Linked DNA regions of Homo sapiens: region 2 is linked to region 1. Evidence: fine-mapped expression QTL. Tissue or cell type: adrenal gland. Region 1 holds a variant in brackets; the other region holds the start of a gene. All regions are shown on one strand. Distances are between the middles of the regions. Region 1 has its middle 100 kb from the start of STT3B. Region 2 holds the start of STT3B (STT3 oligosaccharyltransferase complex catalytic subunit B).

Region 1 (11,857 bases):
GAACCTATTTCTAGCCTTGCAGCCAATTTATTAGTTTTACAAGGCAGTTTCAGTCCCTGAATAAAGAGGGGGTTCATTTTGGGAAGGGGCTGTTATCATCTTCATTTTAAAGTTCAACTATAAACTACATTCTTCTCACAGTTAGCTTGGCCTATGCCCGGGAATGAGCAAAGACAGTTAGCTTTGTTGTTTTGCAAGGGCAGTTTCAAAAAGGGTTTCAGATTCATGACAAGAATATTTCTATTTTTAATTATGTTTTATCCTGGAATCAACATTTGTAGCCTATAGTAGAATAACTTGGGGAACTTTAATATATGCCTCTTTGAGGCTGAAAGTAAACTAAACAAATAAACTGCAACTCAGATGGTCTGCAAATATGGATAATTGTTTTAAAAGCCTCAGGATTCCTCTCCCTCTTCTCCCTATTGAGGTTAAGTGCCTTCTTTTCTGGGGACAAGGAGGATTTCTTTCCTGTCTGCTAGGCATTTGTGTATTACAGTCCTCTGATTCCTGTCCTAGATCTTTATGAATAACACAGCTGCCTTCTGCATCTGTATTTTCTAATTTATACTGGTAAATTTTGGGGGAGTAAAGGTAAGAGTTAGCTTGAGTGGGAAGTAATTGCAGTTATCAATCTTTATGCCCAATTTTTATCTTCTTCTAAAGGGGTGAAGAGAGAATGAAGGCCTTTGGATGGTTATAATTATAAACCTGTGGGTGCTCTTGGAAAGAGAAGCTATACAAATGGATGTGAGCTGCTCTCCCCTCCCTGTGTGTAAGGACTGGAAGAAAACTGGAGAATAACAATTTTAGGAGCTTAAAGGGAGTTTGTTCAGTATTTGCCTTTCCTAAGATTTCAGGTAAGCTGAGCGGATTTCACCCAGACATTATGGAATGAAATGCAGAGCTAATTTTAGAAGTTATTATTCATCAATCAATTAAATCAGGAAGTTATTTAATATCCCCCCAAAACAATTTTCTAGGTTTCCTGTTTCAGGCTATGATGAGAAGGCAGGAAGAAACTTCACCTTGGAATGGGGTCATGATACATAGCGAGCATTCATCTGCCTTGTGAGGAAAACATGTGGCTGGGGCTGTTTCAGTGAGGAACGAGGGAACACAAGTGACTCTGAGATTTTCATTTTCTTCCTCTGCTATGTTATTTGGCTTTTTCATTAGAGACTATCAATTTGTTGCAGATATGATTTTTATGCCAAAACTGTTTTTGTTTTGATCTCTAGGGACCAGATGACCCTCATCATCCAGTGGCTGATTGTATGGCTATTTGTGATAGATTGTGTTATTGTTGAAAACATTGTCTTTCCCTGAAATGCCCTTCCTGTGGTATCTCTTCTGCTGGAGGGTTATATATCCCTGCCCTGCTGAACTCAGGTATGGCCATGTGACTTGCTTTGTCCAAAGGAATATAAGTGAAAGTGATGTGCAAGACTTGCAAACAGAAGATCTAAGGGCTCTTGTGTGATTTTTACCATACCTCTTTCTTTCTGCTACAAACCAGCCAGGTCACAAACAGTCAGCTCCATCAGTCTGATCCCCAGGGTGAAGCTGACCTGGAGAAGCACTATAGCTGATCTGTGATGGACCAAACTTGGGGTCATTTGTTACTGCAGCACAACAGCTTAACCTGACTGATGTAGTAATGAAAATATTTGGGCCCCAGTTAGTGAAAATAATTTTTGTCCTTCTACCTCTTTGTCCGATTTTTTCTCATAGAAATAAAATCACCATATTCAAGAACACTTTTCCAGGCCAGTGTGCTGGCTTAGAAATAAGCTGTGAAGTCACTCACTGAAAAATGAGGCTCCTACATCGTAATAAACTCCAGTTCATTTCTAGAAAAGCAGAGACTGGTTGCTCCACAAGGGCTAGGATCACACTGGTCTTGCTTGTTGCTGTATCTGTGGTGCTTAGCAAAGTGCTTTGCCCATAATGCTCAGTAATTATTTGTTGAATGAATACTGAATAACTGAATAAAGAAGAAATCAGGTGTCTCCATTCTTATGGATCAGACAAGACCATAGGTGGCATTTTGTATTTAAAAAATTACTTTCGTGTTTAGAATTATACAAGCAAGTTAAGTCAAGTAAGGAACTGAGAGGCAAAAGTGGGTCTAAAGAAGTCGATAAGGGTCACTCCAGGTATCACAGCCCCAAATGTGGCTCAGACCTATGCAGAAAGCATAAATGAGTGAGACAGGCTGGATCACTTCAGCACAAAAATATACACCCTCTCCTTTCTCTTGAAACATGGTTCTCTTAGTCTAAATTTCATTGTATTTTGATAGAGATGTGTGTGAAAAATACTTATCTCTCTAACATAACTATAAGAAAAACAATAGCAGGAATATAATGACAATCAGTTACTCATGGTTAACCTTGGCTTCTAGGGCACAAAAGTGGTGACCTGAACAGCACACATCCTATCAAAAGAAGTCAGGGATTTCTCAGCTCCTGTTGAGTGCTGCTGTGTTGTGCTGTGGGATATGAGTCCAGTCTTCCCAGAGCATCCTAATTTTCAGGAGAATCTTGTAATCTGGATTTTGGTTTTGAATTTCCCAATGTTTAAATGTTGGCAATGAAAAAAATGATATTAAAATTGATGTAGGTTAACAGAATGCAGCCCAGTGAAATACTTTTCAGGGCAGATTTGATCCATGGGCTACCATTTGTGACTTCTGACCTTGGTCAATTTTTACAGGGATGGTTTATGAGGTAAAAGCTCTAGACTTTAATATTAAATTTGCATGGTGTGTATGTGGTTTTTAGGAGACACCTGGAGGAGGAGCTGTTTTGAAAGTCTGCAGCTAAATTGGGGTTCCAGTACCAGAGTGGCTAGTGACTCTGCCCAGGGGAAGCTGCCTGTGGGTGTTTATGGTTTGCCTCTCTTAGCATACTATACTTCTTTACATGGCAGATGGCCTTAAGCCTAGTGGTTCAACTTGTGACCAGGAGTCTTGCAAATGGGAAGTTTGTTTATACTGGCAGACATCCTTGTGGCTCTTGTCTGACCCATGTCCACTTTATGCCTGCCTGACCATCACTCTGGCCGTGGGAGCCTGACCTCACATTCTTTCCAGTGTCCCAAGGAAAACCTGGTTTGGGGAAGCCCCTGATTCTTCAGATGAAATGTGCAAATTCAATACATCACCAAAGAGGAAACAAGTTCAAAGATTTTTACTTTCCGAGCAAGGAGGACATAATGAGTCAGGAGGGCAGTCTTTTGTCCCCGGATCACCTAAGGCAGTAAAGAAGGCTCAGGCAGATAGAGAGAGAGAGAGAGAGAGACAGCGAGAGAGCAAGAACACGAGAGTGAGCATGTGGCAACTAGAGCATGTATAAGAGAATAATGTGGATCACTTTAAGTTTGCAGGCAAACGTCTGAATCATCCGTTTGAAAGAAGTGGCAGGAAAACAGGGAGCCCAGTCTGCCAGGTGGGAGAGATACCTCTAAGTTCTTATCTCTGGCCACTGGCTTGAGCCATTTGCATGTGGTGTAGAACTGGAAACTGTGTCCAGGATGACTGAGCCCTGCTTCTGGTATGAGAAAGTTAAACTTGTATTCAAAATGAATGCCAAGGCAAGATAAAACCCTGAGAATTCACCACATAGGCTGATGCCAGTTTCCATTGCCCCAAACTGCAGATTGGTGGTTCATCACCTGAGCTGCCACAGGGACAGCAGGAGGCTGCTGTGTGTCCTTTCTGAATCTCTCCTGGAGTCAGGCCAAGGTCCTTTGACTTTGAGTATTTCTAAGATTAAATAGGAGATTTGGGCACTAAATTATATATTCAGAGTGTCCTTGCTGGAATGAAAAGTTTTAATTTTGTGCAAGTGTGTTCATTTGTTTCTTGTTTCTTTCTCTCAGATAATATTAGGAAATGTCTAATCTCCTCCAAGAGAAAAGATATTGGCCTGGATGAAAATGCAAAGAGTTTGTGGTCCTAGGAGAAAGAAAATTCTAGAAGAGAAGAGAAAGGCCTGCATGTGAGGAGGTACCCTTGAGAGATGTGTACCACAGCAGTGGCTACTGCTTGAAGATGTCCATGATTTTGGGAGCAGTACCCAACTGATGTTGAAGATGTCCATGATATTGGGAACAGTACCCAACTGAGTTTAAAGAGGACAGTTGTCCAGTTGTCCTGCTTGTAGCCACCCAGCATCACTGGAACACCTTCCTTTTTTCTACCTTGGAATTTTCCATCATTTAAAATCCACCTCCTGAAGGTAGAAGGCAGAGCTCACCTTCCTGGTCTCTCCAACAGCTGGTGCTCAGGCCTCTGAGCTAGGCTTTGGGTGATATGGGTTTCTTCTGTTTGTCCCTCCAGATCCACTCTCCACCATTCTCTACCTTTCCTGTCCTCCAGGAGGCTGACTTGGATGGACTACATCACCAAGGTTTCCTTGTCTCTTGCTTCTGGTTGGGTTTGGCCAATGGCAGCAATGGCAGGCAGTTGGAGAGTGGGAGGGGAGTGCAGTGGGGACATTAACCCCCAGCTCCATCTATGCTGAGCAGTGTTCCTACTGTTGTTACATTTCTATACCTAAGAGCCCAGCTTGGGAAGGGAAGCTGTCACCAGGTTCCAGAATAGCTCCTTTCCCTTGGCCCTTCAGATCTAGGTGCAGTAATGTTTTCCCCCTGTCGCTAGTTTTTGGGTGCTTTACCATCCTTTCCCACACCATTGCAAACAGCCCCCCTAATAAACTTTCTGAAAGTATCTTTCTGAGTGTGTCCTCTTTTTCCTGCTTGATTCACTTTGTTCATCAGATCTTTGCCAAACCTTTACCCAAAAGCTTGTGACAGAATAGAGCTGGAATAACATGATGGTTAATTGTATGTGTTGACTTGGCTGGGCCATGGCATCTAGATATTTGGTCAAACTATCTAGATTCTGGATGTTTTTATAAAGGTGTTTTTGAATGTGATTAATATTTAAATTGGGACTTTGAGCAAATCAGATTGCCCTTCATTGTGTGGGTGGGCCTCATCCAATCAGTTGAAGGCCTAAATAGAACAAAAGTCTAGCCTCTCCCCAAGCAAGGCGGAATTTTGCCAGCAGATGGCCTTTGGATTCCAGCCACAACATTGGCTGTTCTCTGGGTCTCAAGCGACTGCCTTTGGACTTACTGCAATTCCTCCCAGCTGGTCTACCCTATCAGATTTTGTACTTGCTAAGCCTTTGCAGTCATGTGAGCCAAGTCCTTAAAATAAATCTCTCTCTTGGGAGGTTAAGGCTGTGAGGTAGAATTTCTGGCATGGATGTGGTAGTGGTACGAACTCATAAATACTGCTTGGTGGCAGTGGTAGTGATAACATTTTTGTCATCAGACTAGTTCTGCAGTGTGGGTTTAGGAATTGTTCCTGGGAGCTCATCTCAAGCCTGTTTCTCGAGATTTCCAGAGGATTTTGTGAACTACTTACCATCCTTTGAAAAATCTCTTTTGCTTATTCAATCAGAGTCTAGCTTTAACTAACCATCACAGAAGCATGGATGAACTATAGTTTGAGTAAGGTCATATTATAAACAAAGATTTGTTTATGTTTATTGTCTTAAACATATTTATCAAATATAGTTTTATGGCTTTGAAATAATTCATTTTTTTTCTTGCAATAAGCAATAAATATGCTGTCATTCAGCTGTACTATTATTTCTTTCTTTGGGGTGTAATATACTTTTCCAGACTGGCACAAATAAAACTACTCAAGCATATTGTTATCATTCCCTCATTTAATTTCACTTCTGAATGACCCTGCAATCTTGATTTAGCATGAAGAAGCAAA[AT/T]GTGATTGTGTTTGCAAGACACCGCTTTCTAAAATGGTATGTGTATATTGGTCTGTGTTCCTTTCTCTCCTTCTCTTTATATAAATATGAAGTTAAGCTTGCAGTTTCTGTTATGTTTGTGGAAGGATTAATTTCTACAAAACAGAAGATTTAAAAACCTGCCTTAGGAACAGTCCTACTTGTGGGGTAATTCAACCTATGGTTTTTATTTCTGATATAATAATGTCTTAACTTTTTGGCTCCCATGGGAATGCATGAAAGGATGAAATTTATGAGAAAATATGATTCTCCTCTTGTTATATGGATTAACTAATGGCTCTATCTCTAAACTGAGCATCTTTTGTACAATATTCTTTTAAGTGTAACAATAGTTTTATTTCCAAATATAGAAATTTATATATTTATGTATTTATTTTTTCAGACAGAGTTTCACTCTTTTCATCCAGGCTGGAGTGCAGTGGTGCGATCTTGGCTCACTGCAACCTCCACCTCCCGGGTTCAAGTGATTCTCCTGCCTCAACCTCCCGAATAGCTGGGATTACAGGTCCCCAACACTATGCCCAGCTAATTTTTGTATTTTTAGTAGAGGTGGGGTTTCGCCATGTTGGCCAGGCTGGTCTCGAACTCCTGAGCTCAGGTGATTCACCTACCTGGACCTCCCACAGTGCTGGGATTGTGGGTGTGAGCCATGGTGCCTGGCCTCATTTGTACCTTTTTGTGGCTTGATAACTATTTTTTTATGCTGAATAATATTTCATTGTACAGATGGACTACAGTTATTATTTATCCATTCACCTATTGAAGGACATCAACTGTAGTTTTTCCCTTTAATTTTTAATAATTTTTTTAAATTAAAAAATTTTAAGGCTGTGAGTTAGAATTCCTGGCATGGATGTGGCAGTGCCACAGACTGTATGATTATGGCCTGATGCCAGTGGTGGTGGTCACAGTTTCCTCATCATACTAGATGTCACAGGGTTCATATTTAATTTTAATAGCTGTGTATATCATGTTCAGGCTAAATAGCATACTTAAGAGCAGGACAAGAGCACAAGCAAATTTATGGATTTAAGCTTCTGTTTTCTTTTATCATTTGTACTGCAGTGATAAACTTGATCTCTTTGCTGCTCCCCAAGGCGCAACTTAAAAAATATATTTTTCTCCAATTGTATTAATAAGAACTCTTTTAGCTGCTTATGCATGGCATCCCCAGAGACCACATGTGAGGACCCTACTTCATCTATTGTCCCAGTCATCATCGAATAGGAAAATTGAAACCTTTCCAGGTAGTTTAAACAGAGAGGGATTTAACATAGCAAAAGTCCCGGAATGACTGGAAAAGCAACATAAGGAAGATAATGTTGCTTAGAAGTCAAGAAACTGCTTCTAGCAAAAAACGTATTCTGAGAAGACAAAGGAAATGTCAGAACCAGATTCAGATGTGGCAGAAATTTTGGAATTATCACATGAGGAATTTAAAGTAACTATGATTAATATACTAAGGGTGCTAGAAGAAAAAAATGTAGCAGAAAGATGTAAACTCTAAAAAAGCATCAAAATGAAATACTAGAAATAAAAAACATGATAACAGAAATGAGGAATGCCTTTAAGGGACTCATCAGTAAATTGGACATGGCCGAGGACAGAATCAGTGGGCTTAAAGATGTGTTCATAGAAACGGGGTGAACTGAAAGGCAAAGAGAAATAAGAATGAAAAACTGGAACAGAATATCCAAGAAATCTAGGACAATTACAAAAGGTATAATATACATGTAGTGGGAATACCAGAGGCAAAAAAGTGAAAGGAACAGAAGAAATACTTGGAATAATAATGTCTGAGAATTTTCCAAAATTAATGACATCCAACAAACCACAGATCCAGGAAGGTTAGAGAACATCAAGTAGGATACATAGTAAAACAAAAACAAAACAAAAATCCTGACACCAAAGCACATCATATTCAAACTACAGAAAATCAAAGACACAAATCTTCAAAGAAGCCAGGGGAAGAAAACCACCTTACCTATAAATAATGAGGATAAGAATTACACTAGACTTCTCTTCAGAAATGATGCAAGCAAGAAGAATGTAAAGTACAAGATTTAAAGTGTCAAAAGAAAAAAGCTATCCACTTAGAATTATGTGTCTAGAAAAATTATCCCTTAAAAGTGAAAATGAAATAAGACATTTTAGATAAAAGTGAAGGAATTTGTCCCAAGACATGCCTTGTAAGAAATGTTAAAATAATTTCTTTAGAGTGAAGGAAATAATATAGGTCAGAAACTCAGATCTACATAAAGAAAGGAAGAGTGTTAGAGAAGAAATTATGAGGGTAAAATAAAATCTTTTCTTATCCTTAATTGCTCTAACAATAGTTAACAGTTTGTTAAAAATAATAATATATTGGATGATATACCTTATGGATAGTGACACAAAGGGCAGCAATTTCATAAGGGATGGAAGGGAGGGATTGGGCATATTGTATTACAAGATAACTGTACTAGCTATGAAGTGGTACAGTGTTGTTTGAAAGTGGACTTAGATTAGTTGTAAATGTATATTGCAAACTCTAGGCAACCAGTAAAAATTTTTAAAAAGAAGGATAATTGAATGCTAAGAGAGGAGAGAAAATAGAATGGTATAAAATGCTCAATTAAAACCAGAGAAGGCAGAAAAAGAAGGAAATACCAAAAAAAGAGGAGACACAAAGGCTACACATAGAAAACAGTTACAAATATGGTAGATATTCATCCAAATATACCAAAATCACTTTAAATGTAAATGGTCTAAATACACTAATTAAAAGACAGAAACTGTTAAAGTGGACACAAAATAAGACCCAACTATGTATTGTCTTACAAGAAACTCCCATTAAATATTAAGACAGATAGGGTTTAAATAAAGAGATGGAGAAAGTTATGCCATGCTAACACTAATGAAAAGAAAGCTAGAGTAGTTATATTAACTTCAGACACAGCAGACTTCAGAGCAAGGAAAATTATTATGGACAAAGGAGGGCATTACGTAATAATAAAGGGGCAAATTCTGTAGGAAGACATAACAATCCTTACTGTGTATGCACCAAAAAACACACTGTTAAAATAAATTAGACAAAAACTAAAAGATTGCAAGAAGAAATAGACAAATCCAACTACCATAGTTGAAGACTTCAAATACATACAGCAAGTACTAATAGAACTGAAAAGAGAAATAGACAAATCCAATTACTGTTGGTAACTTCAATGCTTCTAGTTTACCAGCTAATCAAAAAAGTAGACAATCAGCAAGGGTATAGAAGATCTAAGTAACACCATCAACCAGCTTGATCTAATTGACATTAAAAAACACTTTACTTACCAATAGCAAAATGCACATTATTTTTAGGTCCATATGAATATTCATCATGATAAACCATATCTTCAATAATAAAACAATCTTGAATAAATGTAAAAGAATTGAAATAACTCAAAGTATGTTCTCTGACCTTAATGAAAACAAACTAGAAATCAATAAAGATATCTGGGCCGGATGTGGTGGCTCATGCCTGTAATCCCAGCACTTTGCGAGGCTGAGGAGGGTGGATCACCTGAGGTCAGGAATTCGAGACCAGCATGACCGACGTGGTGAAACCCTATCTCTACTAAAAGTACAAAAAAATTAGCCAGGTGTGGTGGCACATGCCTGTAATCCCAGCTACTTGGGAGGTTGAGGCAGGAGAATTGCTTGAACCAGGGAGTCGGAGGTTGCAGTAAGCCAAGATTGTGCCATTGCACTCCAGCCTGGGTGATAAGAGTGAAAATCCATCTCAAAAAACAAACAAACAAACAAAAAATACATATATATATATACATATATATATATATATATATATATATATATATATATATATATGGAAAATCCCTCAGTATTTAGAAATTAAACACATAATTCCAGATAATTTATGAATCAAAGAGGAAATCTTAAGGCAAATTAAAAAATATTTTGAAATAAATAAAAACACATCGTATTAAAATATGTGGGATGCAGCTAAAGCAGTGTTTAGATTCAAATTTTTGGCATTAAGTGCACATATTAAAAAAGAAGAAAAGTTTCAAATCTGTAAGCTTCCACCTTAAGCAACTAGTAAAAGAAGAGCAAAATAAGCTCAAAAGAAAGCTAAAGGAAAGACATAATAAATATAAAAGCATAAATCAATAAAATAGAAAACAGAAAAATAGGGAAAAGTCAATGAAACAAAGAGGCAATTATTTGAAAACATCAATAATACATACATAATACCTGATATGGTTTCGTTTTGTCCCCACCCAAATCTCATCTCGAATTCCCATGTGTTGTGGGAGAGAACCGGTGAGAGGTAATTGAATCATGGCGGCAGGTCTTTCCTGTGCTGTTCTCAGGATAGTGAATAAATCTCACAAGATCAGATGGTTTTAAAAAGAGTTCCCCTGCACGAGCTCTCTCTTTTCCTGCCGCCATCCACATAACATGTGACTTGCTCCTCCTTGCCTTCTACCATGATTGTAAGACCTCCCAAGCCATGTATAACTGTAAGTCCATTAAACCCTTTTTCTTGTTTAAATTATCCAGTCTTGGGTATGTCTTTAATAGCAGTGTGAGAACAGGCTAATACAATACATCTATCCATACGCTCCAGGGAAAAAATAAAAGACACAAATAATCAACATCAGAAATGAAATAGGAATATTACTACAGACGCTGCAGACTTTAAAATGGTAATAAGAAAAATCTATAAATAACTCTATACACATAAATTCAACAACATAGATAATATGGACCAATTCCTTGAAAGAAAAAAAATTAGCAAAAGTTATTTAAGAAAAAATAGTCCTATATCTTTTAAAGAGATTGAATTCATATTTAGGAATCTTCAAAAAAAAATCCCACAGAAAACAAAAGTCAATAACAAAACCAAATCCCAAAACTTTAGACCCAGAGAGCTTTACTAGTGAATTCTGCCAAACACTTAATGAAGACCAAAGCACCATTTCTACAAAATCTCTTATATAAAATAAACAAGGAGGGAATACTTCCAAACTCATGATACAACTCTAACATTACTTTGATACAAAAACCAAAGATAGTACAAGAAAAGAAGATAGACCAGTGACATTGATACAAAAATCTTCAACAAAATATCAGCAAATTGAATCCAAGAATATATAAAAAGAATAATGCAATACAACAAAGTGGGATTTATCCTGAGAATGCAAGGATGGCTCAGTATTTGAAAATGAACCAATATAATCTACCATATGAACACACCAAAGAACAAAAATCCTATGTATTGGCTAGGAAGTTCTTCTGACCTGGGATGAGCTGCTTCATATGTTTGTAATCAGCTCTAGGTTGGGTAGGCAGGTCTGCTGATCTTAAGTGGGCTCTCTTATGTGCTTGAAGGTCAGCTGTTGTTGAAGGGGCTTGGATGACTTGGATGGCTGGAATGACTGTTCTCTTTCACATGGTTTCTCTCATTCTTCAACATTTGTTTTTGTGGCACTGGCAAGGATTCCAAAAATAGGACAAAATCATGCACCTGTTAAGACCCAGACTTGGAACTGGTTCACTATCACTTCTATTGCATTTTATTGTCAAAAGAAGTGACAAGACCAGCCCAAATTCAAAGGGTATGAAAATAGATATTTGATTAGAGGACCTACAAAGTCACATTGCAAAGGGGTATTGATCAGGGAGATACAGGGGGAGACAGAGAATTTGGCCCATTTTGGGCAGTCGGTATACACAGAGATTCACTTAGGTATTTTCAAGAAAAGGGCATTCATTACAAAGTACACATGGCTATATATTACAGCTTGCAACTAGACCTAATCTTAGAAGCTCTATTTTCCTCTGTGTGTCCTGCTAATTAGTGTCTCTCTTCCTTCCCTTCCCCCTCCTCCCTCCCTTCCTCCCTCCCTTTCTCTTTCTCTCTTTCTCTCTCTCTCTCTTCCTCCTTCCCTCCCTCCCTCTCCTTCCTTCCTCTTTCTTTCTCTTTCTTTCTTTCTTTCTTTCTTTCTTTCTTTCTTTCTTTCTTTCTTT
Region 2 (11,857 bases), 100 kb before region 1:
TTTGCTAACTACAGCCAAAACCTAAGGCTCAGAGAATTCTCTCTAGGGAGAACCCACTTTATAACCTGCTAAGGCAGGGAAAAAAGAGCTCTCACATAGGGAACTTCATTGCTTCTATGGGAAAGGCTACCACAATTGAACAAGATAATGGATATGGAGAAGGTATCTGGCTAATATAAAGTAAAAGTATTATCTCTTACAATAAAAATATGTAGAAAACACATTTTGTTCCAGATAAAAAGGTATAGTTAAGTGCTGTTAAAGTGGCTGATTAACCAAACGTTTGGCAAGTACAGACAATATATTTTCAAACTGCTTCCTCCTATCTGTTCAACTCAGCTGATAAGGGAGGAATTACTAAAGTGAAGTCAAATTGTTACCAAAAATGTTGCTAAATGTTAAAAAAGTGCAGTGTACTTCAATAAATAAATCACACATCACCCCTTATGACAACTGGTAAGATAAATAACTTGGGTGACAAATTTAAAAAACAAGTATAACTCTGTGACGTCACTTTCAGCAGCTAACTTGAGTCTTTTACACAATTTAAGAACTACTGTAAAATTTAAAGAAATAGCTCACAGAGAAAGTAAACCCTTCACTAAAACGACTTGCAGAAATGAAACCATTGATAGAGATATGGAAAAAGAGGTCAGGGAAGGTATGAGCAGGCCAGAATAAATCGGTTTGTGGATGCACAGCCTGAGAGTAACATTTAAATATTATTAAAGGTCTGTGCCATTGCTATATGATATGATGGTGATCTGAGCAACTCCCAAACTAGAAACACTAGAGTGTTCAGCTACAGACCAGTTAAAGTGTTGCGACTATTAGTAGCTATAGAAGAAAACTAGATTTAAAAGCCCCGAAAAGCTTTAAAAGCCCAAAGTAATAATGGCAGGCAATCTACACATCCCCCTCCTTTTAACCTTTTCAAAAAGAATGACTGTAAGAATCAGATAAGAATGAATGAGATGCCTAACTACGTGAGATCTTCAAAAGACATGAAAAAAAAACAAGAACAAGGTATTTTTTTTGTCTGAAACCTGATTCTCTCATTAAGTCACCTGAATTAGACATTATATTAGATTCATACTGACAAATCTCCATTCACGGTAAGGCACAGGAGACAGTCCATTATTATACAAATCTCCTTACTACTAAGCAAGATTATCTAACATTATGAATATAAACATTTAATTAAGAAATGTCAACATTAAAACTATATGCAGAATACCTAAATTAAGTAGCTCTTTAAAACAGAGATGTATACTTTCAAATGGTACAAATTTAGCTAAATGATAATGTGTCAGAAATGCGTTTTCATATATATAAAAAATGAAGCAAAACATATTTTCTTTTTTGAGTCGGAGTTTCGCTCTTTGTTGCCCAGGCTGGAGTGCAGTGGCGCGATCTCGGCTCACTGCAACCTTCGCCTCCCGGGTTCGAGAGATTCTCCTGCCTCAGCCTCCCAAGTAGCTGGATTACAGGCGCCCGACACCACTCCCGGCTAATTTTTGTATTTTTAGTAGAGAGGGGGTTTCACCATGTTGGCCAGGCTGGTCTCGAACTCCTGACCTCAGGTGATCCACCTGCCTCGGCTTTCCGAAGTGCTGGGATTACAGGCGTGAGCCACCGCGCCCGACCAAAACATATTTTCATGTGCATGAAAAAGAATTATGCCCTCCAACCACACTACTGAAGCTGGAAAAAGAAAACTTTTAATACTTAGCTACACTAAAAAAAAAAAAATAATAAAAATAAAAAATAAAAAATAAAAATATTAGCCACTTTACTTGTTGAGCCTTTTCATTATTGCATTACTCAATTTTAGTGGGGATCTTTGGCTGACTTGATGCAGATTTCTAATCTTAAGGAAAAATGACCAAAATCTCATCATTCAGTAGTGAATTTTTCTGCAATCTTTAATTTCAGCCCCAGAGTTACTATTAAACAGTCGTTAGCCTTCCATTTGTAAAAATGTTACTATGGAAATATTCACAATTTTGTTACCTGAAATGTTTGGTCAACCATGCATTTCTGCTATTTTAATCTGAAAAGAGAACTTTCTCTTTTCATATTGTCCAGTAAATACTAGTTTTCATTTTCTGGTTCCAATTTCATTTTTATCTAACTTGCTTAAGTATTTCAAAACAAGACCACCTAATAATATTGTGTCAATAAGCCTTCACAGGTATTCTTAGGCTCATAAATAGTCTACACTAACATATTTTCTTCTGTGATTGCACGTTAACAAAAAGGTTATTTTTTAAAAAAACTAGTGTTAGAAAACAAAATCAAAACTTCTAAAATGGAATGAAAACATTTCATGGAAGACTGTCACAGTAATTAACTGATCTAAATTGAATTGTCCATGAGTGGGCCCCTCTGGTGTTCAATAGATGTTGCAGTACCAATTTTTCTCTCCATAATGCAGAACTTAAATCTGGTATATTACTATACAGGTAAGTTACTGCCCCCCTCCACCCGAACACTTATTATCTATATAGTTAGTAACTCTCAAAAAAGACTCTCTCTCTTTGAATCTCAAATGATGAAACAAATATCCTGAAATTTAATTAGGTCTAACTGTGAGGAAGTAAGATTAACTCAAGGTTGACAGGTCAATAAGATAACACTAGTTTAAAAGGCATACTCTCAGAGGGGAAAATCCTAACTCAGGGGGAAAAATCCTAACTCGGGTTGGGCAAGTTGCGAAAAAAAAGTTAAAGCAATCTTTCCATCTAGATAATTCACAGACCAATGTAGTGTCTAAGTTAGCTAGTGTTGTTAAGAGTGGGGTAATTTCCTAAAACATTCAGGTCAGTCCCTTACACCATGTGCAACTTCGGTATTACAATCTAGGACTCCCATCACCGTGGTACTGTTTGCTCTTATCCACAAACCTTCCTGCAGACCAATAAAGGAACTAATGCAATGCTTTCAGATACTGTGCATAACACACTAAGGGTGACAGTGGCTAACAGGGTAAGGATCTTGTTCTAAAAAGCAACCCAAGACGATAGTGAAACAGTAAGGTGCTGAGTGCACTTAAGAGCTCTGAAAAAAAGCCACTCTTTAAAATACCTAATGATAAATAAATAAGAGTAGCTAGCTTTCAGATCACTTTCAGGGGTATTATTTCCTTCCCTCCAACACGCCATTCACTCTCCTTTTCCCTTCTCGTATCATGAGAGCATAAAAAGAAACAGTAAAAGCGTAAAACTGCAAGGGTGAGCAGCCGGGGTTCCGGCACATCTGGACCCACCTCCAGCGGCAACAGGGCAGCCCCCCTGGCCGATTCCGTCTGAACTAGCAAAAACGCGCCCGCAAATATGAAAGAACGCGAAAGCAGCGGGCGAGGAGGGCGGGGAATCGACCGACAGTCCGCGGAGGAGCTACCTGCCGCCTCCTGGCGTGGCGGGTCCGGACTCAGCGACCAAAGCGGGCTGCGAGGGACTGCACCCACACTCCCGGCGGCTGCACCCACACTCCCGGCGGCTGCATCCACACTCCTGGCAGTCTTCACACTAGCCCGGCCGAGAATCAAGGTTTCGCTCCTGGACCCCGACGCCCCGCCTCAGGCTGCACGGGGCAAACTTCGCCCACGGGCAGGGGGCGCGCCCGGAGCTCCGGGATCCGCGCCGGCCTCAGCCAGGACGCGAGCGGGGCTCCGCGGCGGCGCGGGGCCAAGTCGAGGAGAGCTGCGGCGGGCGGAGGAGCGGGTCCCGGTTCCCCGCGGGCCACGGGCGGGGGAGGGGCGGCGAGGCACTTACCACGGGTCGAACTCGTGGATGATGCTTTCGAAGCGGATGACGGCGAAGAGGCGCGAGCTGAAGCCGGCAAGCCAGGCCAGGAAGAGGATGGTGAAGGAGAGAAGCGACTGCCACCCAGCCGGCTGCGACAGCCCCCCGGACAGCCCCGCCGGGGCCGGCTTCGGCGGCGCCGCGCCGCCCGCCGCCTTGTGCGCGCACTGGGCCCCGGGCCCGTGGTGGCCGTGCCGGCTGTTTCCCAGGGCCATGAGGCCACTCCACGGGGACGAGTTGAGGGACGACTTGTGCTTGCTCTCCGGGGCCGAGGGCTCCGCCATGTTGTGCCCCGGCGGCGGGTCTAGCTCTCCTCCTCCGCCGCCGCCGCCTGGTGCGAGGGGTGCTGGGCGGGGACCCGGAGGAGGAGGAGGAGGAGGAAGAAAAAGGAGGAGGGAAGAGCTCTGCGCGCTCCCGCCCTCAGCGCCGCGAGGCCGGCGGACTGGGGGTGGAGGAAGCGGCGGCGGGGAGTCTCCGCCTCAGCAGCGGCCGCAATCGCCGCTCTCTCAACCCAGATGGCCCCGGCGCCCCACTAGCCATCCGTATCCCCAGTGCAGCTGCGGCGGCGGCGGCGAAAGCCGACGGGACGAGGGCGCCAGGAAAGAAGCAGCAGACGGAGGCGGCACCACGGCTCTGAGAAGCAATGACATTCCCTCTCTAGCCCGCCGCCCGCCCAGCCGAAAGGAGCAGGGGGAGGAGCCCCCTGGAGTCCGGGCGGAGCTCAAGCAACCTCTGACTCCGCCTCCGGCCCGACAGGAACTGGCCCCTCCGCCTGTCACAAAGCGACAGGTCCGTTAGGGGGCGGGCCCAGAACCGCTGCGCCCACCAATAGGGGCGCGAGCTGGGGCGGAGCTTGACCCAACCGTCTCCCCCTCCCCCCCACCATCCCGGCCTCGCGCCGATTCGCCCGGAGTGGCCGAGCTGCGCGGCTACGGCTTCATTGTCAGTTGAAAGACGCGGTTTCGCGCGCCTGTGCGGTCGGCGAGAAAGGGTACTAGGCGGCTCCGCTAGGTTCATGGAGCTGAGCTGGGCCGAGGGGCGGGAACTGCGGAGCGGCCTCGGTCAAACTCGTCTTAAAGGACGCGGAAAGCGCCGCACCGACCAGCAGGACGCTCGCGGGCTCTCCGCGGTCGTGACTTTTAACCCGCTTTGCGCGGAGCCCTCACCACGTGACGGCCGCGCAGGCGCATTATCCTAGCCCTCGGCGCGTGGGTCGGGCCGAGGGGTTCAGCAGCCCGTGGCGCTCCTCGGCTGGCGCTGCGAGTGAGCCCGCGGCGGCAGTGACACAGCCTACCTTGCTCATTGCCCTTCACGTCCCGCCTCCGGCTTCTGCGGCCGCGGGAATCCGAGAATGTGAGCAAAGACAAGTTTTCCGACACCGAAAACTCGTTGGAACCGGCAAGCGCGCCCCTAGCTCCGGCAGGCAAAATGCGACCTTCTCTCGCCCTTTTTCGTTTGTACTCCGAATTGCGAAAGTACTGTATGTTCACTGGAAATATGGGAAAATGCAGAAATACATTAACGGCTGCATACATTCCGTCGAGTGAGTGAAACTAACTTACCCTGGACGTTAAGCTGTTTCCAGTTCTCACTTTACTAAATAATAATAGAACGAAGGTTCTTGTGCACGTCTACCTTGTATTTTTATAATTCCTTTCCTTTCCCCACTTCCCTCCTTGTCCGCTAAAATAAAGTGCTACCAGATAAACTCAGGGCAAAATGAGCTTAAACTAAGTGAGGTAGTGGGGAGACTCGAATTGCTCTTATATAAACCCCATAGAAAGTACGGAGCTTTCGGCGTAATCGGTGCTCAGTAAATACTTGTTCATGTCAATTCACAGCTAATTGTACATTTTATTAGGTAAGTAACATCTGGATATTAAAGGGCATATTAATGTAAAACTATAAAGGCCCTGAATTATTTTCTTAGGTGATTTAAATTTTTCTCTTTAACTACAAATTGTGTTTCAATATTAATAGAAGTCTTAAAATATTAGATAAATGAACCCTAGTTATTTTGAGGTAGCTCCTTGAAAGTAAGGCAACTCCAGCTACCCTTTTAACCTGCTAAGTGGTTACGTTTTGTCTTGTTTCCTTAAAAAAACCATAAATAGTCTTATTAAGGAAATAATGAAAAGGTTTCCAGAAATAGACTTTCTCACCAACAGTTTAATAGCCGACATTTATTGAACGTACACATTTTAATGAGAATTAGGATAAAATATTAACTGCCTCTGTTATACAGAGAAAGATGACATGCTTTTCCTCATAGCCCAAACGGTACATGCTGAAATGACAGCAGAGGATTTTTGTCTGTGTTCCCTGAACCAAAGTTTTATCAGTCTAAAATAAAATTTGTGTTTTTATTTTAATTTGTTTGGATATTTCTATTTTATTGTCTTTGTGTATCTATTCCCTAGTAAGTTCTACGTTATCTTCTTTTGCTTCCTGTTTTGGCTGTTTAATGGCCATAGGCCTGATCTGAAAAGTGACAAAGTGAAATAGTCCCAAATTGTTGCTTACTAGTCATGTAGCATTGGACAAGTCACCTGCATGGGTTGCCCTTTCTGCTCTTAAAGTCAGTTGTTAATATTAAAAAAGCTTATCTGAAAGCATTTTAGGAAATTGTTAAGGAACGTGCAAATACAGGGTAGTGGTAAAGGTGAAAAGCCCTACGAAAACCCCTTGATTTTTGACCTTCATTTATTCACTCATTCATTCAGCAAGTATATATTGAACTCCTTTATGCCGACCACTGTGAGTGAACTGGGATGCATGGGGATTCAGCTAGGAACAGGAAAGACAGGGCTCCTACTCTCAGAGAGTTCACCAGCCAGCCCTAGGAAGGGAGGTATTAACCAAATCATCAGATGGTTCAGGACCAAAATGCAGGGTGACAAACACTGTGGAGGACAGGCACATGGGGAATTTGATCTACACCAGAAGGATGAGAAACATTACCCTGAGGAAGCAGCACTGGAAGTGATGATGAACGGACGAGGAGAAGGAGAATGGAACGCGTTACATAGAGAAGCACGTGCAAAGGCACTGCAGTGGGGCAGGGGAGGCATACGAGTAACCCAGAAAAGTGGCTGCAATGCAGACAGTGGGACAAGGTGCAGTAGGAGTCAAAGGAATGGCCGGGTAGTGTAGGTCCTTTTAAGAGGTGTTTTTTGCTTCATGTTAACTTCAGAATATTGAGAAGCCATAAAGGGTTTTAAGCAGCATGTAGTGTATTTGAGATAGAGGGAGAGAGTTGATCAGATGTGTGTTTTGAAAAGATTACCAAGGCTGCAATGTGAAAAGCATTTTGGAGAGGAGACCAGTAAAAGCTCTACCTGAGAATTCAGAGATTACTTTTGTGAGGAATATGCTATTGTGGAACCACTAGAGAACCCATAAAAATAAATTGCAGCATTGTGAATTCACAATTTCTAGCCTATCAACTTGGAAAAATTGTTTACAGTTTGTGATGAAGCTTGAATGTGTTTGCCCCTTTGCACTTGAGGTTCTAATCCTGCTAGGTGCTTGTAACATCCTCCTGAGTTCAAATATCTCAGGAGTCAATCAAACACTATGGGTGCAACATGATGAGCAGAGTGGTGTGACATCAGAGGCCCAGCTTCCAGGGGAAGGGAGTATTTGAGTTGAAACTTGAGGGGTGAGCAGAAGTTCACAAGACACACCAGGAAGAGGGATGGGGGATTCCAAGAAGGAACGAGGAAGTCCTTCAAATTAATACACAAAGTTTAATATTAATGAAGGTGCATTGGGAGATGAGACTGAAAGAGGGATAAGAACCAGATTATCAAGGACTTGTCTGCCTGGTAAAGGAGTTTATTATTCTGTAAGCAGCTGGGATTCATTGAAACATTTTGAACAACAATAACATGATCAGACTTGGTTGATGGAAGAAAAAAATTGACAGTAGTATGAAAGATGTACTGGAAAGGGTGAGAGTGGAAGCAGAGAAACCAATAAGGAAGCATTTACAGAAATTTAGGCAAGAGAATTAGGTACCAAAACTGGGACAGTAGGGCTCAGAGAGGAGAGGACTGATAGGAGAGGTATCAAGAGGGTAGAGTCCAGAAATTGGTGATTGGGGTAAAATAAAAGTAGGGTTTAGGACAAATCTGGAGTTTCTGGTTTAGTTATTTGGATGGAAAGTGATGTCTCAGAAATAGGGAGCAAAGGACAAGCAGCAGATTTGGAGGGGAGATGATCAAATCAGCTTTGGAGATGTAATGTTTTAAGTCCCTGTAGGACATCCAAGAGGAGCTGGATAACAGACACTTAAAGAGATGTGATGTTCAGGAGGAAGGGTTTTCTGGGATAAAGGCTTGGGACTCCATGGCTACGGGTGAAATTTTGCTGGAATCAAGGCTATAGACAAGGAGACAAGGGTTGAGGATAGAGCCCTAAGGACTTTCCAAATTTAGATGTGCCTACAGGGAGCCCAAGATAGAGCAATGTCCCAGCAGTGAAGAAAGGGAAATAAAGTGAAGTCAGAAGCAGCACAAGGTACAGAGAAATGGAGTGTGACACAGCTGAAAAGTGTACCTTTCTTTTGGCAACCAGGAGTTCACCAATTACTTTAGCAAGGTCAATTTTAGTGGAGTCATAGGGGCAGAAACCAGATGGCAGCAGGTGAGAAGGGATCAGTGGCAAGGGATGTGGAGGCAGAGAATGTATACCACCCTTTCTAAAAGTCTGGTTTCAAAAGCACAGACAGGACCAAATCAGACCAAGAAAAAACTAAATTACGATCCGCAGTCCCTAGCCTTTCCCACAGTGATCAAGAAAAGATTTAAGTGCCTGTGATGTGTCCCAGGAATGACACAGGTCGGAGAGTGGGTTTCATTCTTCCTAGAGAAACACAAACAACAAGACATGTACGCTTGTACTAGACACACCACACTAGGGGGCTGCTACGGTCTACAATATAATTGACATTTGCAAATATCTGGTAACTGAGGGAATTCCCAATGCTTATATTGTCCCTTTCTGACAAGCACCTGTCAAAGAACCTCCCTGGTAGTCCATAGCCCCAGTAGAGGAGAGAAGCAGAGAGGGAGAAAAAAGATTTGAGCTAGGTATGCTGCTAAGTGGTACTGTGTGGTGGTTTAGAGCACAGGCTCTGCAGACACGCTGGGTACCAAATCTTGACTTTAGTTCTTCTGAGTCACATGGCTTTTGGCAAGCTACTTCCCATCTCTGCTCCTTGGTATCCTCATCTTTACAGCGTAGATAAGCACTGAACCTTTCTCTTAGGGTTATAAGAAGAAATAAATGAATCAATACATGAAAATAACTTAGGACAGTGCCTGGCGCAAAGGAAATATTCAATATATGTTGGTTATTAACAATATCACTGGTACTACTGCTATATTCAGAACCATGACAGATGGGCTATGAGACTTACTCCCCTGGATAGCCTTAAAATAATTCTCCATGACCCGAGCCCATACGAGTGCTTCTTTATTTCTTTAAGCCAGAAAATGCCTGCTTCAAATAAAACACCTTACAAAGTTAGGCAATACCTAGCTGCTGATAATGAATAATAACCTCCAATTTATAATCCAATAGAACTGGGGTCTGCAACTTTTTTTGTAAAAGGCAACACAGTAAATATTTTCATCTTTGTGGGCCATGCTGTCTCAGGCTACTACTCAACCCTGTTGTTGTAGTGTGAAAGTAGCAATGGACAATATGTAAGAGAACAGGCATGGCTGTTCTTCAGTAAACACAACCACACCTGCAGACCAGAGTTTGTTGGCCTTTGCGGTAGATGATAAGGGGATTGCTGTGATCTAATCTAGCTCAAAATCCAGTATGAGGCAGAGAATGTTTTCTATCATGATCACTGTGAAGAGTGAGAGCTTGTGTCTGGGCAGTCATCAAGGACATGTTCATGAAGTGATTGGCCTTAAAGAATAGGTAGAATGTTGGCCGGAAGCTGTGGCTCACGCCTGTAATCCCAGCACTTTGGGAGGCCAAGGCAGGTAGATCACAAGGTCAGGAGTTTGAGACCAGCCTGGCCAATATGGTGAAACCCCCATCTCTACTAAAAATACAAAAATTAGCCGGGCATGGTGGTGCACACCTGTAATCCCAGCTACTCAGGAGGCTGAGGCAGGAGAATGGCTTGAACCTGGGAGGCGGAGGTTGCAGTAAGCCGAGATCACAGCACTGCACTCCAGCCTGGGTGACAGAAAGAAAAAAAAAAAATGAATAGGTAGGATGTTGACAAGTGAGATTTGGAGTGTGGGAAGGATGCATTAGAAGCAGAGGAAGGCCGGGGGCGGTGGCTCACGCCTGTAATCCCAGCACTTTGGGAGGCCGAGGCGGGCGGATCACGAGGTCAGGAGAAGGAGACCACGGTGAAACCCTGTCTCTACTAAAAATACAAAAAAATTAGCCCGGCGCGGTGGCCGGCGCCTGTAGTCCCAGCTGCTCGGGAGGCTGAGGCAGGAGAATGGCGTGAACCCGGGAGGCGGAGCTTGCAGTGAGCCGAGATCGCGCCAATGGACTCCAGCCTGGGCGACAGAGCGAGACGCCGTCTCAAAAAAAAAAAAAAAAGAAAAAAAAAAAAAAAAGCAGAGGAAAAGGAAAAACAAAGCCAAGCAGGGGACACTTGGAAATGAGCCAGTAATCTACAGCTGAGATGCAGTGTCACATTTTATCTTTATTTGCTACCATTGAAACAACACAACACTCTAGTCTTAAAATTCCAGATCATATATAGGAAATTAATTTTCTATTTTAGTACTTTTGAAAATTCACATTTCTATGCCCACTATCTCATGGTTTTCATAGAAGGACATTGTAACAGTGAGGCACACATTTGATTTCAAAAAGGGCCAAAGGATAATGGCTTAAACAAATAGAAGTTTATTTTCTCTCATAAAGTGAAATTCAGAGAAAGGTGGTTGCTGGTATGAAGTCAGTTGCTCAACAAAGCTTTCAACTTTTTCTGTCTTTATACTCTTTGCTGGATTCTCGGATGTCATTTTCACCCCCTTTTATGCTGTCCTTTGCATTGCATAGCAGAAGCTGAGAAGTACTTTTCCCAGATTCTTTTCTTGTATGACTCCATGATATTTTGTCAGTGAGGGGAGCTCAGTCGACAAAAAAGACAGAGAGGATTTCAGATAGAAAAGGAAGAATGGGCAAATGTAAGATTTACACATCTTTTTGGCTGGTGTGAGAACAACTTACATAATTGTCATTGACTAAGACAATTTTGGGGAGCTTTTTGGAGATTATTGAGAGTTGGAGCAGTTTCCTAGAGAACTTCTGAGAGCTCCCTGCTTCAGTCCTTCAGGCTAAAGTTTTCAAAGTCTCCTTCCTTGACCTTGACCTTCAGGCAACAACTTCTCTTATCTTTATTCCCTATGGTCTTTCAACATTAGTGTAAATAATAATTCTTGATTAAACCTTTTATTCCTGAAGTACCTAGAGTATCTCTGTTTTCCTGATTGAACCTAGTAATACACTTTCAATTCACTTAGCATATTGGTTTTCATTCTCTTGATTATTGCCTCACTATTGTAAGACAGCTGCTGCAGCCCCAGACATCACATCAGCATTTGAGGCAGAAGATTAGGAGACAGGAAGATGCCAATCACATATGTCTTCCTTTTTTAAGAAAAACATTTTCCCAGAAATTATTTTAGCAGACTTTCTCTTAGGTCATATTGGCACCACCACCTCCCATGACCATATTGACTTTATATTGCTGTAAGTTTGCAGCTTCATTTCTTTAGGCATGCCTGGTTTTCCTGAGAGCACAAACAAAAGTCCTGAAATTAGGTTCCAGTGGCTCTAATTAGTCTGTCTTAGATCATGTGCCAATTCCTTTTTTTTCTTTGGGACGGAGTCTCAGTCTGTCGCCCAGGCTGGAGTGCAATGGCACGATTTCAGCTCACTGCAACCTCCACTTCCTAGAGTCAAGCAATTCTGCTTCAGCCTCCCGAGTAGCTGGGATTACAGGCGCCCACCACCACGCTGGGCTAATTTTTGTATTTTTAGTAGAGAAGGGTTTTACCATG

What was found. PIP is the estimated chance that this variant, and not a neighbour inherited with it, causes the effect.
Region 2: STT3B starts here. The variant in region 1 is fine-mapped to the expression of STT3B in adrenal gland (GTEx, PIP 0.92).

What each region holds. Positions count from the first base shown.
Region 1 is chr3:31,424,792-31,436,648 of GRCh38, reverse strand. No RefSeq gene overlaps it. Among named protein-coding and RNA genes, the nearest start is that of STT3B, 100 kb to the left of the region's middle. The variant AT/T (reference allele first, on the strand shown) is at 5,800.
Region 2 is chr3:31,525,232-31,537,088 of GRCh38, reverse strand. It overlaps STT3B (STT3 oligosaccharyltransferase complex catalytic subunit B), which reads right to left and starts at 4,164. Exons shown (of 16, transcript NM_178862.3): 1 at 3,777-4,164. The coding sequence starts at 4,090. RefSeq lists enhancers at 991-1,490, 1,491-1,992, 3,432-3,491, 4,342-4,481, 9,738-10,238 and silencers at 3,652-3,801, 3,882-4,011, 4,042-4,271, 4,582-4,841.